Linked DNA regions of Homo sapiens: all the other regions are linked to region 3. The links come from fine-mapping of genetic effects on gene expression. A gene starts in region 3. Each other region holds a variant in brackets. All regions are shown on one strand. Distances are from middle to middle.

The links. PIP is the estimated chance that this variant, and not a neighbour inherited with it, causes the effect.
Region 1: its variant is fine-mapped to the expression of COL4A3 in skeletal muscle (FUSION, PIP 0.95).
Region 2: its variant is fine-mapped to the expression of COL4A3 in thyroid (GTEx, PIP above 0.99).

What each region holds. Positions count from the first base shown.
Region 1 is chr2:227,189,021-227,194,599 of GRCh38, forward strand. The region is part of intron 1 of COL4A3 (collagen type IV alpha 3 chain); the gene reads left to right. Among named protein-coding and RNA genes, the nearest start is that of COL4A3, 27 kb to the left of the region's middle. RefSeq lists an enhancer at 1,703-2,902. The variant G/A (reference allele first, on the strand shown) is at 2,632.
Region 2 is chr2:227,224,988-227,230,566 of GRCh38, forward strand. The region is part of intron 1 of COL4A3 (collagen type IV alpha 3 chain); the gene reads left to right. MFF-DT (MFF divergent transcript) reads right to left here. Exons shown (of 14, transcript NR_102371.1): 11 at 3,494-3,645; 12 at 2,783-2,905. Among named protein-coding and RNA genes, the nearest start is that of COL4A3, 63 kb to the left of the region's middle. The variant C/A (reference allele first, on the strand shown) is at 2,756.
Region 3 is chr2:227,161,271-227,166,849 of GRCh38, forward strand. It overlaps COL4A3 (collagen type IV alpha 3 chain), which reads left to right and starts at 3,354. Exons shown (of 52, transcript NM_000091.5): 1 at 3,354-3,543. The coding sequence starts at 3,457. It overlaps COL4A4 (collagen type IV alpha 4 chain), which reads right to left and starts at 2,935. Exons shown (of 48, transcript NM_000092.5): 1 at 2,737-2,935. RefSeq lists enhancers at 2,262-3,163, 2,438-2,537 and silencers at 2,808-3,187, 3,408-3,587.

The sequences.
Region 1 (5,579 bases), 28 kb after region 3:
GCCAGGAAGGATGGGAGGAGAGACTCTTCCATATACAGAAAACAGCCCATGTTGGCTTGGGATTCTGTTTGAGCACCAGAGAGAAGGTGAGTGTCTGGAGGGAGAGAGGCCAGGGGAGGAAGGAAAAGGGAGCTGGGGAGAAAGGCAGGGCTCCATCCTGTAGTGTCATAAGAAGGAGTTTGACCTTGATCCTTAGAGGAATGGAGAGCACAGAAAAATCTTGAGCAGATCAGAAACATCATGAGATTTGTGCTTTGGAAAGAGACCCTGGTTGTGGTGTGGGAAATGGATTAGAGGTGAGCAAGAGAGGAGGTGGGTAGAACACAGAGAAGCAGAGGCAAGGTGTGGTGGTGATCCCCGTGAGACAAGGAGGTGGCCAAAAGGAACACAGTGACCAAGAGGGTGGAAAGAAGCAAGCAGATCTGTGAGTTTTTTGGTCTAATCAACGTGATGTGGTGATGACTGATAGATGACTCTGCACCCTCCCAAATTTAGCATCAAAGAACTGCTCACCCAGAGACTTGTGCTACATTCGTGTTACAAGTTAGTATCGGTAAAAAGCCTGTCCATTTCACTATATTAGTATGCATTTCTTTTATCAAGTAAGACCTAAATAACCCAGAGTTCTAATTTGCAGGCTTGAAATTGTAAGTAACCTAAAACTCTCCATTCAAAATAGAGTAAACCATTTTACATATATTTATTTGCTTCCATAATTTAAAAATTTAGAAGTCATGGAGGTTTCAGGTGAGGCTGGACCTAGCATTTCAAAGATATCATCAAAGACCAGGTTTCCTTCACCCCTTGTCTTCACATGATGTCTGCTTCATCCTAAGATTGCTTTCCCTCGTGGTCTCAGCCATATACTTCTCTGTGTTATTCTGCTATGAAGACAAGCCATTTCTACCAGTAATTCTTCCCCCCAAATCAGGAAGTTTCCTTTCCCAGAAATCATCAGAGAAAAACTTTGGAGTTGCATGCTCTAACGCCATAACAGTGGCTAGGTAGATGGATGTGCTTCTACCAAGAGAAAGGAAGAATGTCAGGTGGAAAAAAAAAGAAAAAAAAGCAAACATCCCCTGCATTCAGCACATTCCCTGATGCATCTTAGCTGCAGTCACTATTCATAAATGAGTTGAAAAATTCATCAAACAAGAATACATTGAGATCAATTGTCATATTTTAAATGCAAGGCACATGCAGGTCCCTCAAGAGCTGGAGGTAACTCAAGAGAGTGATGCTTCTCCCTTACTGCCATCTTGGCGTGCCTGCTCCATGATACTATATTTCCTCTGCTGGCTCTGCAAACATGCCTTGAATTCCATTTCTTGCAGATCCTGACTCCCTTTTAAAATATGGACATGCATGATGCTTCTCACAACAGTCTGTACCCATTCCTGAGGAACTAAAATGGAAACACTTCTACAGTCTGAAGCAAACACATAAATAGATATGTTTTATATGTCATCTAGGAATATATACATATCAGTTTATTATTTCGGATCAAAATATGTAACAGAAGAGGGACTTTGTGTATTCTTTGAGGTTGAAATGTATCACTAATTAAAACAAAGTGTATTAATTATTTTCTATTATAAAAGTAATAGGTAGTCTGGGCATCGTGGCTCTAATCCCAGCACTTTGGGGAGGCCAAGGCAGGCAGATTGCTTGAGCTCAGGAGTTTGAGAGCAGCCTGGCCAACATGGCGAAACCTCGTCTCTACAAAAAATTAAAAAATTAGTCAGGCCTGGTGGCACACACCTGTAGTCCCAGCTACTCAGAAGGCTGATGTGGGAGGATCGCTTGACACCAAGAGGTGAAGGTTTCAGTGAGCCAAGACCATGCCACTGCACTCCAGACTGGGTAACAGTAATATGTCATAACTAATGAAAATGTGCAAAATTCTGAAAAGTTAAAAGGAAAAAAGCAAATCATAGTTTACTACTTAAGGACAATATCATTAATGTTTTTAGCATCTTCTTCTAGCACTTCTATTATGTATAGAATTTTTTAAAAAATAGATGCAAAGGTTATTATATATGAAATTTTATGTCTTTTTTCTCTTAAAAATAGACTACATAAATAATACGTATATGGCCATGGAAACAATTTTTGACATTTAAATTTTCTCAACCACTTTGCTCTTTTTGGATACTTGGGGAATAACAAAATTTTTATTATTATAAGTAATACTGCTATGATCATGCCAATGACACTCTGCTTGATTTGGAAGTACATTCCTCGTACACATTCCCAGAAATGGATTTTTTTTTTGTAAAGGACGCAAAAGTTTAAGACTGTTGGCATATACAAAAGACCTATTTTCTGAATTCAGACTTTAGGCAAAAACAAAAAATTTAAGTGGGTGAGGGGGCAGGAAGAACAATAAAGAAAGCTAAGAAGTGTTTTGAAAAGCAGTTCACAAAATCACTCTTTACCAGCCACATACAAATGTTGAATGGCTCCATCCACGGTGCATTTGTGGAGCTCCCCTGTTGGCCATTCCCCGCATCAAGGATTCAAAGAACCTGCCAAGGGGCTGCAATGGGAGATTACAGTGACTCAGCAAATCAGGATGATCAGATTTCAAAGTCGGCCAAATAACTCATCTTGGAGACAGATGTAGCTGAA[G/A]TTTTACATTATGGCCTGCAAGAAACTTTATTCTAATAAAAGACAACTGTGTTTACAACTACTGGGCATATCTCAGGTTACCTTAAATGAAAATCATTTTCTTATTTTTGTAATTATGAAGGCTAAAAATAAAGATTTTTTTCATAATTAGTTTCTGGAACGCTAATAATAAGAAGAACTTAGAATATTACAGATTCTCTTACAAAACACAAAGACCTTGGAATAAATTTGGCAATTTCTTCAACAGCAGTGCCCTTATCAAAAACAGACACTTGAGAATTGTGGAAAGGGAAAAAAATTATCGAAGGAAAGTCATATTTCCTTAAATTTCTCTGTGAATGTGTACAGTGAATTTCTTCATCTCTAAAGCAAATCTTTAAAAAGGAAGAATTTGCTCTAAATTCAAGCATTCATTTTTATCTCTCTGTGCTCAAGTATTCATTTTTATCTCTCTTTGCTTTTGACACAGAGTATAAACGGTAATTATACCATCCAGTTGCAAAACGTCATTGAAAAACAGATGGTAAATTAATCCCAAACAATTATTACTCCAGGTTCTGACTATCAATTTTGTCTTGAACAGCTTGTCTAAACCTAGTTATAGAATTGTGAAGAAGGCTAAGTTTGTGTCTGGTTGTTGTCTTTCTCCCCTACCATTTTATTAAATATTTAATTTCTTCATGTGCACATAATGCTTTGAAATGTTAGATGTGGTTTAGCACACACTATCATATTTGACTTGCTCATTTCATTTTCCTCAGACCCTGACCAGGGCAGGATGAAAACCAACCTTTTCATCTCTACCCTCTTTTCATCTCAGCTAATTGTGGAATCAAATGATGCTGTATACATAAATGTGAACCCCTGTCCCACCCTTGGTATTGGGGCTTTGAAAGTCTTCAAACCCCACCACAATGGTGGTTGTATGGAGATCACTTGACGGTCTCATGTGCCCCAAGTCCTCAATCTCTGCAAGTGTCCCTTGGGACTTTGCTCAGTGTGTGTTTGTGGTAGTTGTTGTAGTGAAGGGTGGGGAGAAGGTTAGGGGTGTCCTGGAGGGCAGGGAGAGAGGTTTCATTGTCCCCTGGGGAGTGAGTGTGAATCATGAATGAACAATCCTTGACGAATCGAGTCAACCCAAATAAGAGTTTGGAACAGTGTTTCTCAAACTTTCTATAGTGAAGAAAATTTTGTTTTGTTTTTACATTTCCATTATATTGTGAGCCAATACTTTCTTAAAATATAAGAATAAAAAATTAAAAGAAAATGAAATTAAAAGATATAAAATATAAGCCCAAATATTTTAATCAGCATAAAATCACTCTATCAAATCACTCTAAGCTTTCTAAATGCTTACTTTCAATTTCTATATTTACCTTGTCATAGGTAAGAAACTGAGACCCATGCTTTGAGATGCACTAGTTTAGAGAAACTGAATAATGCAATTAAAAAGTTTCACCTGATAGGACTAAGTGCATCTCCTCCCTACAAGGATACATCTTCATTCCCAGTGCTCATAGAATATTTATAAAAATGGACCATAATTTGACCACAAAGAAACAATGAAGGAATTCTACAAATTAGATAAACTTATGGAACTGGATGAAGAATCAAAATCTGTTTACAATGCAATAAAATTTAAAACAACGACAGCAAAAGGCCTACCTATGCATTTTAAATCTTTTTCCTAAATAACTCTTAGTTTAAGGAAGGACTCAAGATCACAATGGCAGGATGTTTAAATAAATATTCATGATGCAAAGATTAGAAATAAAATCCTGGCTGGGCACGGCGGCTCACGCCTGTAATCCTAGCACTTGGGGAGGCCGAGGTGGGCGGATCACAAGGTCAGGAGTTGGAGACCATCCTGGCCAACATGATGAAACCCCATCTCTACTAAAAATACAAAAATTAGCCAGGCGTGGTTGTGCATGCCTGTAATCCCAGCTACTTGGGAGGTTGAGGCAGGAGAATCTCTTGAACCAGGGAGACTGAAGTTGCAGTGAGCCGAGATTGCACCAGTGCACTCCAGCCTGGTGACAGAGTGAGGCAAAAGAAGAAAAAAGAAAGAAAGAAGGAAGGAGGGAGGGAGGGAGGGAAGGAAGGAAGGAAGGAAGGAAGGAAGGAAGGAAGGAAGGAAGGAAGGAAGGGGAGGGAGGGAGGGAAGGAAAGGAAGGAAGGAAGGGGAGAGAAGGAGAGGAGAAGGAGAAGGGAAATAAGGAGAGAGGGAGGGAGGAAGGAAGGAAGGAAGGGGAGAGAAGGAGAGGAGAAGGAGAAGGGAAATAAGGAGAGAGGGAGGGAGGAAGGAAGGAAGGAAGGAAGGGGAGAGAAGGAGAAGGAGAGGAGAAAGAGAAGGGAAGGAAGGAGAGAAGAAGGAAGGAAGGGGAGAGAAAGAGAAGGAGAGGAGAAGGAGAAGGGAAGTAAGGAGAGAGGGAGGGAGGAAAGAAGGAAGGAAGGAAGGAAGAGTCCTATGGGTTATGTTCCAAAGAGTCTTCTGAAGAAAATGCATACCTGTTATATCATCAGCATCCCAATAAGAAACCCACGACACACTCACAATTGGATAATTTGAGAAGTTTATTTATAGAGACACTGTTTACAAAGGTGAGGTTCAGGTAAACCGTCTGAGATAGTTCAACAGACAAGTTATTTCCACCACTGCTCCCTTTCCTGGATCTAAGAAAGAGAGTGGTATTGAGTTGGCCACAATCAATGAGGGCTGAGGGGTGAGGGGCTGTGAGGGAGGGACCAGGTGCTCAAGGTAGCCCTGCAGGGAGGGAGCCAGGAAAGTAGAGGCCCTGACCTCGCTCTGCTCCTTCCCTCTCTCTGATCTTTTGCCAGAAGCCTGAAAGCTCAGGACCCCCTTGTGGGAGCCCCTTTCTGTGGTCCTCATGGTCAGCCCCTTAAGACAAGGAGCAGGCCTGGAAGGAGGAGTGAAAGTTATCTGG
Region 2 (5,579 bases), 64 kb after region 3:
TGTGGCCTCAACCTCCTGGGCTCCAGCGATCCTCCCGCCTCAGCATCCTGAGTAGCTGGAACTACAGGCTTGCGCCACCATGCCTGGCTAATTTTTTTTATAGAGACAGGGTCCCACTATGTTGCCCCGGCTGGTCTCCAACCCCTGGGCTCAAGTAATCCTCCCACCTTGGCCTCCCAAAATGCTAGGATAACAGGTGTGAGCCACCTGGCCTAAACTTTGGTTTTGTAAATAACATTTTCAAAGATTTTTTTTCAAATGGTCCTATGAATAGACAAACCAGGCACATGACCTAAGAAGTCCCATCCGCCTTAATATGCGTCTCCACCTGCCAGCCTGCAGCTCGAATTTTCCATCACTTGTGGCACTGGTGGCAGCTTTCTGTCTTTTTTGTTTGTTTTAAGAGGTAATGTTTTCTGAAAAATGTGTCAGTTCCCAGGCGGATTTTTAAAAATTAACCCATTAGCATCATGTCTCTCGATAAGATTAGTTTACTTTCACCTCTCAGACAGAAGACCCTGCAGCAGCAGGTGACAAAGCAAAGAGTGACCAACAAGAGAGAGTGGAGGTGGGTGTGGCTAATTTAGTGGTTCCCAGTGCAGGGTTGCACCAGGCCAAAGCAAGTGAGAAAAATAAGAACGAGGTAGAGATTTTTTTTTTTAATCAAGTAAAATGGGAGCTTTTTATCAAGTTCCCATGTTAAGGGAACAGCTTTTTCTTTCTTTTTTTTTTTTTTTTTTGTTGAGACAGATCTCACCCTGTCTCCCAGACTGGAGTGTAGTGATGTAACCTCTGCTTACTGCAACCTCCACCTCCCAGGTTGAAGCGATTCTCTTGCCTTAGCCACCCGAGTACCTGGGACTATAATTACACTCCACCATGCCCGGCTAACTTTTGTATTTTTAGTAGAGACAGGGTTTCACCCTGTTGGCCAGGCTGGTCTTGAACTCCTGACTTCAAGTAATCCACCCGCCTCGGCTTCCCAAAGTGCTGGGATTACAGTCGTGAGCCACCATGCCCAGCCAGGAACATATTTTATTCTGTGGGCATTTTACTTGCTTTATGGTATCTTAATTTTTCTCTGGAATATGAGGACAGTAGATGAGAGGTCTGCTGTGGTTTGGGGGGTGGGTGATTGTGTTGGTTTGTGTTTGGAGGTGGCCATTGCTCTTATATTGAAAAATATAACTAAGACAGCCCTCTGTTTGTCTTCCTTTTAAGACACATTTATTTTATTGCCCTGTGAAGTTCAAAACATGAAGAACTTTTGGACTAGAGGATCTGCTGGGTTCTTCCAGTCCCCAAATTGTATTCCCTGTGTCCCCCAAGCTCTGGACAGAAGCACAGTGGGAGAAGGGGAGGCACATGGGGGTAGGCGGACAGAAAGAAGAGACAGGTCCCAGTCTGCCATTCCAAGGTAGAAGACCATCTCTCACTGGAACTCACAGCTGATCTCTTCTTTAAGTTTCTATTCTAATGTTAGGTTTGTTTTTTTTTTTTTAGATGGAGTCTTGCTCTGTTGCCCAGGCTGGAGTACAGTGGTGCAATCTTTGCTTACTGTAACCTTCACCTACTAGGTTCAAGCAATTCTCCTGCCTCAGCCACCCAGGTAGCTGGGATTATAGGCACTCAACATCATGCCAAACTAATTTTTGTATTTTTAGTAGAGACGGGGTTTCCCCCAGTTGGCCAGGCTGGCCTTGAACTCCTGACCTCAGGTGATCTACCTGCCTCGGCCTCCCAAAGTGCTGAGATTATAGGCATGAGCCACCGCACCTGGCCTCTATCTTAATTTTTAATGCAATTTTTATATTGCCATAGAAAAAATATAATGAAGATAATTTGTACCAGGAATCACCAAGCTTTTCCCATAAAGAGCCACGTAGTAAATATTTTAGGCTTTGCAAGCCAAGAGGCAAAATGAAGGCTACTATGCAGATACCTATATAACAAGAGAGAAAATAAATATCCACAACATTTGTATTGATGAAATGCAAACTTATGGACATTGAGATTTAAAGTTTATATAATTTTCACATTACAAAATGTTATTTCTCTCTTAATTTTGTTTCAACCATGAAAAATATAAAAACCAGTCTTAGCTCATAGGCCGGATGGAAACAGGCAGAGGGCTGGATTTGTCCTGCAAGCTGCTGTCTGCCAAGTCCTGCATTATACAGCTAATTTCATGAGCTACTATGTTATGTTTTTCACTGGGATTTTACGTCCCATCATGAGGGGCACAGTGATAGGGTGAGAGGGGGAGAAACATACCCCTCCTCCCCCAGTGCCTTGTGGCCAGCAGAGCCCGTCAATAATGAAATACAGGCCGGGCACGCTGGCTCACGCCTGTAATCCCAGCACTTTGGGAGGCCGAGGTGGGTGGATCACTTGAGCTCAGGAGTTTGAGACCAGCCTGGCCAACATGGTGAAACCCCATCTCTACTGGAGAATCATTTGAACCTGGGAGGCAGAGGTTGCAGTCAGCCAATATTGCATCACTGCACTCCAGTCTGGGTGACAGAGCAAGACTCCATCTCAAAAAAAAAAAGAAGAAGAAGAAATGCAACACTGCACCTGAGAATATGACTGACCCTGGGTCAGACTGTCTCACCTGAATTCAGATCCCCACTCCCCATGTTCCTTACTATCCTTAGCCTCTCAAAATCCTAGGTTTCTCATCTATTAGATGGAGCTTATAACAGTACCTCCCTTACAGAATTGTTGTAAGATATAATGAGATAATATGAGACAG[C/A]CAGCACTGAAAGTGCTCAAAACATACTGAGATCATTACAGTGCTGATGGAAGTTCATTTCCTCTACCACCATCCTGATCAAGGGATCCCGTGGAGCCTATTTTTCTTACATGAATAGTGAAGTTTTCTCAGTCTTTCTGCATTCAAAACCTTTTAGGGGGTAAAAAGAAAAGAAAAAAAAAGGAACCTGGAGTTAATGATTATAGGTATACTTACCATTCTCTGCATTGCATAAGACGGGCAAAATTTTCTTACCATATTATTTATTCTCAAATGTACCAGAGAGCCCTCACTGCACCGTCTTTGTCAGAGTTAGTAATCTGTATGCTTGCTGTCATCCAGAAAATCAAAAACGGGTGGCTGGCTTACATGTCTAGACTAGTGATGTGTCTCTGGACGGGAGTTGAGGGATAGGAAGTGGCAGCTGCAGTGAGATTTCTTTGATGTCCAAGGGTGGTGACAGCAGCTTCAGGGCGGGGCAGGCGGGGGCATCCCGCAAAGCAGTCCATGGGTGTCATTCTTCTTCACTGGAGGGCATGGTGCCAGGGCACATGGTTGGTTGCTTAAGGCAGACACGGGCAGAGGCGGCCCTGCAGAGGACAGCTCGTGGCGTCTGTCTGGCACGGTTTGGCTATACTTGGTCAGCTCTTCTTTTCACACACAAAAACTTTCCCCTCAGGCTATTGGCTGGGCAGAGGGACTGGCAGGGTCAGTAATCATAATGCAAAATCAACAGACCTGCTCAGTAGGGTGTTAACCAGCTGTGAACGGTGCCAACTCCCCCTGCTATTAAACCAGGCTGGGCTGGGCTGGGCTGCGGGAGAGAGATTGGAGAAAGGCAGGGCAGGCCACGTCTGTTTCACCAGCATGCACAGGAACGAGCATGCTGGCTGTTGACAGTAGAGAGAGAAATAGTCAAGATTATTTGGAAATTATGTTCTGGTCTATTAATAAAAATGCATGTGCATATTTCCTGATCCTTTTAACGAACAATAAAAATGGATGTGTTTAATGAGATCCTTCATGAGTTTTAAGGATAAAAAGATAATTGTTTACAGTGCTAGGGGGATATAAGGAATTGTGAGACACCGTTCCCACCTGCAGTTTAGGGAAAGTGATAAACCCTCAACTCAGGAGCACCTAATGATCCATGTCAAGTCAATGAGTTAGTAACAGCCTACAGTAACAGCCCTCAGTGTATCCTATGAACTCTTCTAAGGGCTTACCTGTGCTAACCAATCTGACCCCATTTCACAGATGTGGAAACCGAGACACCTGAGACTGCCTAGACTCACAGAGGTGAGGTGGCAGAGCTGGGATTTAGACCCAGGAAGTACGTCTCTGGAACTGGTGCCCTTCACCCTGTACCACTTTGCCTCATAAGAGAAAGCGATGTGCAGGTGAGACATGGGTGGCACACGGGCACTGCGAGAATTGAGATCAAGAGAAGAGTGTGAGACCCAATTGATCCGCACTCCTGGAAGGCTTGCTGCCTTTGTGTAATATATTTGATCTGGCACCTTTCTTGGATAAGCATCAAGTACCATTGGGGTCTCTAACCAATATTTTGTTAAATAAAACATTGTAATGTGTCTGTGCTCTTAGGCAAATGATATTTGGTTAATCAACCAATATAGTCAGTGTACTCTAATAATACTATTAACAAATATGAGTTAATTCATTTATTGTTTGTTAGAGATAGATAACAGCAGTCTCTCACCCTTGCTCTTAGATTCAACACCAGTTCTTTGGCACTGGACAAGGGACTTCAAGAGGAAATGTCAGGGAGGAAGGTGGCTAGTGCAGACTGATGGAAGAAAGGATCAAACAATAGTTGTGGATGTCCTTTGGCTTGGAATCTTGAAAAGGAGAAAGGGGAGTCCCCCAGTGACTGAGTCCTTATTGAGTGCAGGGTACCAGGCAGGCTAGTGACAGCATCTCAACTCCTTACAAAAACACTGCAAGGTACATCCTAGTATCTCCCTTGACAGATGGGGGAACCTGGAAGGATTAAGAAATTTCCCGGCCGGGCGCGGTGGCTCACGCCTGTAATCCCAGCACTGTGGGAGGCCAAGGTGAGTGGATCACGAGGTCAGGAGATCGAGACCATCCTGGCTAACAGGGTGACACCCTGTGTCTACTAAAAAAAATACAAAAAATTAGCTGGGCGTGGTGGTGGGCGCCTATAGTCCCAGCTACTCGGGAGACTGAGGCAGGAGAATGGCGTGAACTCGGGAGGTGGAGCTTGCAGTGAGCCGAGACCGTGCCACTGCACTCCAGCCTGGGCAACAGAGCAAGACTCCATCTCAAAAAAAAAAAAAAAAGAAATTTCCCAAAGCTCCAGTTTGTAGCTACAATGCTGGGAGTAGACTCAACATAGATGGGTCCGTATATATTCAGTAGGTCCATACATACATGGCCTGTGATTTCTGGAATTCCAAACCTTTTTGGATTCTCTACAATGAAAGTTTATTTTGCATTTTAAGTAAGGCCGTAAAACAGAAATGCAACTGTGAAAAAGAATGATTTCCACAAGTTTAACTACTTAATATTCAAAAGTGCTAAAACATCATGTAATCTCGGGTCATTTCCTGATGGCAGGAGGGGGTTTAAAAGCCATAATATTATTATTAAGAGCTTTCTGTTCATGACAAATGATTTTGTATTCCATTAAGATATGAGGAAACTATGGGGTAATTTATTGCTGGAAGGAGAAAAATCATAAAAATGTTGCTTAAGAAATATCCATTAGTTATGCTTCCTTAATAGTTAGCCTTTGGCCATCCTGGTTTTTTATGTGATTTAACAGTTGAATAGTAATGAA
Region 3 (5,579 bases):
CAACTATTTAAACAGTGTGTAGAAAACGGACATGATACTGTGAAAACAAATTACATAGGACTTGTCAAAGACAATAACCACTCATTTTGTTTAAAACTCCTACATGGCATCAAAGTAAAAAAATAGAGACCTCTGTGTCCTTTGAATGTACGAAAAGAACCATCCTCCTTTCCTCTTGCTGTTTTACATTTAAAGAACCAACTGTGAAAAATCAACTCTCTTGACCCAAAGACAATTTTTTTAACAATCAAGCCTTCCAGTTAATTAACACCACCTGTTTGTTTGACAGGTGAGCCTGTCAAACATTGTTCTAAATGTGGCAGGTGGGGAATAGGTGGTTAAATGTGGCTTTTAGATAAGCAACTTCTCAGAGTTTTAAGTACCAGGTGCATACGAATCACCTGGAGATCTTGGTGAATGTGGGATCTGATTCAGTGGATCCAGAGTGAGACCAGAGACTCTACATTTCCAGCAAGCTCCCAGGGAGGCCAATGCTGCTGGTCCCAAGGGATGCCAAGGCAAGGTTCTAGAGGCCTTGGAAGTGTATTAACCTCAAGGGAGTTCATAGGCTATGCTTGCCTCCAGCCATTTTAGTACTGAGCTCAGAAGAGCATCTCTACCACGTGCCACCATTTCTCATCAGGGCCACCTATTTTCCTTTGTACAAAAAAAAAAAAAGAATCAAATTTCACTATGTGACTACTGTGTGAAGATTCTGCACAAAGGGTTTTTGCTATCTCATTAGATTCCAACAACTCCCTGAGGTGGGTATGGTGAGTATGTCTATTTTATAGAAGGAAGACTCCAGCCCAGAGAGGTTAGGTCACACTAGTAAGTATGGAAAGGATTCAAAACTCCAGAGTCTACTCCAGAGGTCAAGCTCTCCAGCATTGCCTCTTTCTTGCTGTATTTACATCACAAGTTTCTTTCCAGCTCTGTATCTGCAACAGAAATGACTTGCAGTTGACTATTACTTCCTGTTCCAAAATTGATAAAACCAAGTCTAGTCCTCCAACAAAATGACTTGGTTTCAGGAAAAGGCAATTAAAATTCAAATTGAGGAATCTTCTGGAATTTGGCAAAGAGAAGCATTTAACATTAGCATTGAGATTTTTTTGTTTGTACTTTTTAAAATTAAATACTGTCAGTTTGTGAAACATAATCATGTGACTCTCAGAACTCTTGGACACTGTCACCTCATCAACAGAACACCTACCGTTTCATTCCACAAGAGTGGCAGAAGTTTCCAGAAGAACCTTCCCTACCAATGGAAAGAAGCTACTGCATACCACACAGCAACATCTGCGATATGGTCATAAATTCCGCAGTGTTCCCAAGTTGTAATGAAGAGTTTAATATATGTGCTTTTTATTATTCTACTAAGAATATATCCTAATTCAACATGTGCGTGAAATTTTCACATGTTCGTGAAAACAGGAGCTCTCATACTTGATTGTGCATGGGAATGTACAGGAAATTTTAAAACAGCTAGAGAGTCTGATAAAATTGGCTTGGAATGGTCTGGGTAGCAACATTGTTTTATCCTCCCAAAGATTCTAATGCACAACGATAGTTGAGAATCACTGGCATAAAAGACAGAAAGAAGACTGTAAGATTCATGCTATAGTCAAAATAAAAAGAATGGGAGGAGTGTCTTCATTCACTGTTAGGGTTTTGCCTACCTGCATGGCTACAAAGTTCTAAGATACCAATAGATCCCAAATTTAACTGCAAGCAAGTGGTTCCCTAAAATCAGTGACCAACTGCATGATCATACTTGGTGTCTGAAGCCAATTGCAGCAAATATCAGCAACACTGTTCCAAAGCAAAGATTCTTAACCTGAGGATGGAATTCAGGTGATCTGTATAGGAAACTCACATAGGAAAATAAGTTGCATCTTTACTTTTAGTAACATGTCACAGAAGTTCAACATGTCCTTCCCTTATGAGCACAGGCAACAGAGCACAGTAGTATTGGCAGTTCTTGATAATTTGCACCCACCGGTATTTTCATGTCACATTTCAGTTTGGGCTATTATCTCAAAATACCATTTGCAGACATCACTACTTTGACATTACTGTTGCTTAATCGGCCTGCTGTTAAATCAAGCTATTTAATGCAATAATGATGATGCACCTGTGTTAGTTACTATATCACGACTTGAGGACTTCCATAATTGCATTCCAATAAAACTGATTCTGATTTAATTGTATTTTATGCATTTCACAACATTCTTCTGAGAAACAGTCTAATTGCTTTACCAGAGCCAGTGTGGTCCGTAGCACAGGAAACGGCGAGAGCCGGCTGGAGGACCGTGCCCTGGCACATTTGCATCGCAGGCCACCCCCAGGAAGAGCGCACCCTGACCAGAGCTGAGTCTTGTTTTGCCCTGCATTTCCGCAGATAAGATTTGGCCTGAAAAGCAGTTCAACTCAGCGGAGAATAAGATGGGCTTTCTCTTTCTCCTCAGCTGCCTCTTTCTCTTGGCATTTTGGAGTGCCCCGACTGCCAGGCCGGTAACTCGAGCCTCCAAATTAATCAAAACACACAGCACCCAGTTAAAGCCCAGGCAGACAAGCCCAGGAGCCAGACGCGCTCTCCTCTGGTGACCCCCGGGCCACAACTCCCCAGCTGGGCCCGCCACCACCCCTTGAATGCCACGCTCCCTCCACTGCCCCTCCCAGGCAGGTGCCGGGGCCCCGGGACAGCGGTTGCCCCACCTATGGGCGCCTTACCTGTGGGGACGCCCGCAGCGCCAGGAGCTGCCGCCTTGCCACCCCACGGGACGCGCACCTCCAGCCCCAATCCACCCGCGCCCCGCTGCCTCTTCGCGGCGCTCTCGCAGCCAAGCCCGGCGGCCGCAAGTTGGAGGCGGGCTGGAGGCGGGGAACGCGGACCGCCGCGGGCGCGGGGAACAAGCGGGGCCTCCCGAGTGCAGACGCCCGGCGCGCCTCCCGCTTAATCTGGGCAGGGCCGCTGGCCACTCCCTCCACCCTGCGCAGCCACCTCCCCACCGCGCAGCCACCTCCCCACCGCACACCCCCAAACGCCCCACCTCCGACCGCACCCCACTTCCCCGCCTGGGCCCCCGGACCTTGGGAGCATCACCTCCTTAACCCCTTACCCTGGATCCGCGCCCACCTGCCCCTCAGGCGCCCAGCCCTTTCTCGCCTCCTGGGCACGATGCCCGGGTAGAAGGGACACTGCCTGGTAAGTTGGGAGGGAGGGGGTATGAGGGCGGGACCTGAGCCACGTCTTCCCTCCCTTGAAGCCACAACCAAAAAGCCTGGGTGGGGAGGGACGAACCGCGCGACCGAGCCCTACAAAACCCGCCCCGGCCGAGTGGCGAGGCGAGCTTTCCAGCCGGGCTCCCAGAGCCGCGCTGCGCAGGAGACGCGGTGGCCTGAGAGCCTGAGGGTCCCCGGACTCGCCCAGGCTCTGAGCGCGCGCCCACCATGAGCGCCCGGACCGCCCCCAGGCCGCAGGTGCTCCTGCTGCCGCTCCTGCTGGTGCTCCTGGCGGCGGCGCCCGCAGCCAGCAAGGTGAGTGGGGGCTGCGCGACCCCCACCCCCGCACTTCCATCCCTCCTCCACGCGTCCGGGGGACGCGCTGGCCCCACCCGCAGCGGCGCGGTAGTGGAGCGGCTGCCGGGCTAGTGGCGAGGCTGAGGGCTTCACGCAGGTCCCGGGACAGGCAGCGAGCGGAAGGGAGCAAGCGGGGATGCCCCGGAACAGGTGGAATGCGCGGGGCTGGGGGAAGAGGCGAGGAGGGGGCTTGTCCAGTGCCTAGGAGTCAGGGATGGCGGGGACAGGCCTCCAGAGGTCAGTAAATTAAAAAATAGACACATAGATAATCGCCAGGGATGATACGTGAGAACACCGGATGTGGAGATGCACGGTGTCACGCTGGTGAATCAAATCAAGCAGCTTGGCCCAGCGCACAGAGGGCTGGCAGGAGACACCTGCAGGGAGTCCCAGCCGCCACTTCCTAGCTGGGACGTCACACTAAACCCTGACCTCTCTGGGGCTCAGTTTCTTCCTTGCAAAACTTGCCCTCCAGTTTTCCTTTGCTATTGTTGGGAAAAGCAAATGCTATCACTGAAAAATTAAGAGCACCTTAGAAATCGAACTCAGGTTAGAATCATTTAAGCAATCTGACACTTTGATTTGATTTTTGACTTGGAATTTGAGTGAAACTGGATTTATTTAAATCCATCCCATATTTCTTATTCTTTGCCATTAAATAGAAATTGATTGTCCTCAAAACGATTGTGCCTCCTAGAGTTGACTCACTTGATTTTACCTTGTGAAAGTAAACTTTAACTTTTCAGATACTTGTTATTTTTACACTTTAAAAAGTTGATTTGGGTGATAACGTGGCATAGGAAATTTCATTTCCAAGGATGAGCAGATGTTTTTACAAATGTTATCATTGAGATTATGATTGGAAATTAACGGTCACATAAATATTTATATATGTTACATGAAAAGAATTTTAGAACCTATGGTCACATATAGGTTCTATATGTTTTTCCTATTTAAATTAAATGAAGACATTGCAGACATTATAGGTGAAACTAAAGCCCTCTCTGACACCCCCCATACCTCTCCCCATTTCCTTGTCTTCCAAGAGGTGTCCACTTTCACCACTTTCATATTTCATGTAGTTTTCCAAACATTGTCCATGAATTTACACACACACATATGAACCCACAAACATATATGTATGTTTTTGTTGGCCTTTTAACATAAATGATACTGTGCTGTATTCCTTTGCAACCTGTAGACCAGTCCATGTCAGTATTTAAGATCCTCCTGTTTTTCTTTTTGCTTTGTTGCACAGTATTTCACAATATGCCAAAGTTAATTGAACCATTTCCCTATCAGTTTACATTTAGATTATTCACTGTTTCACATTCTAAAGGACATTTGTAATCTATGTAATCTGTTTGTGTAGCTGGTTCTAACAAAAATGCACTTTGCATACATTAGGAATTCCCAGACCAGGTATTTAAATGCTACTAGGCATGATAGATAAAACTCAGTGGGGATTATCTACCAGCTTTAACCAGGACAAATAAATCCAAAAAAGCAAAATCCTAAAGGAAATGTGTGTTGTGGGGAAGCCTGGAGAAGAGATCCAGAGCAGGGTTTGCACATGTTTCTGAATTTAGAAGAACAGGAATGAGATTGGGAAGGGGTGGAAGAATTGTACTTATGTGAGGATCAGCCTGAAAAAGTAATGCTTGGGGACCATGCAAACTCTAGTTATACCATTTTCAATTCTGTTGTTACATTCCTTTGTTATTTTTACATGTAAACTTTTCTGTTTTGAGTTTGGCCAAATCTTGGTGACTTCTTGCTGAAATTAATCCATTTGTATTGTTTTTCTCATCACTTGAAGTAAGTCTTTCATTAACAAGTTTTCAGGATTATCATTTCCAGTGTACCTGCTGGGTTAGAGAGAAAATATGCCAGTAAAATAATGAAATGTGCCTTCATCTTGTAGAAAAAGGAATCACAACGTTCACTGATAATCGGGCAATGTGCACCAACATGGCTCCCTTCACAGAGAAACT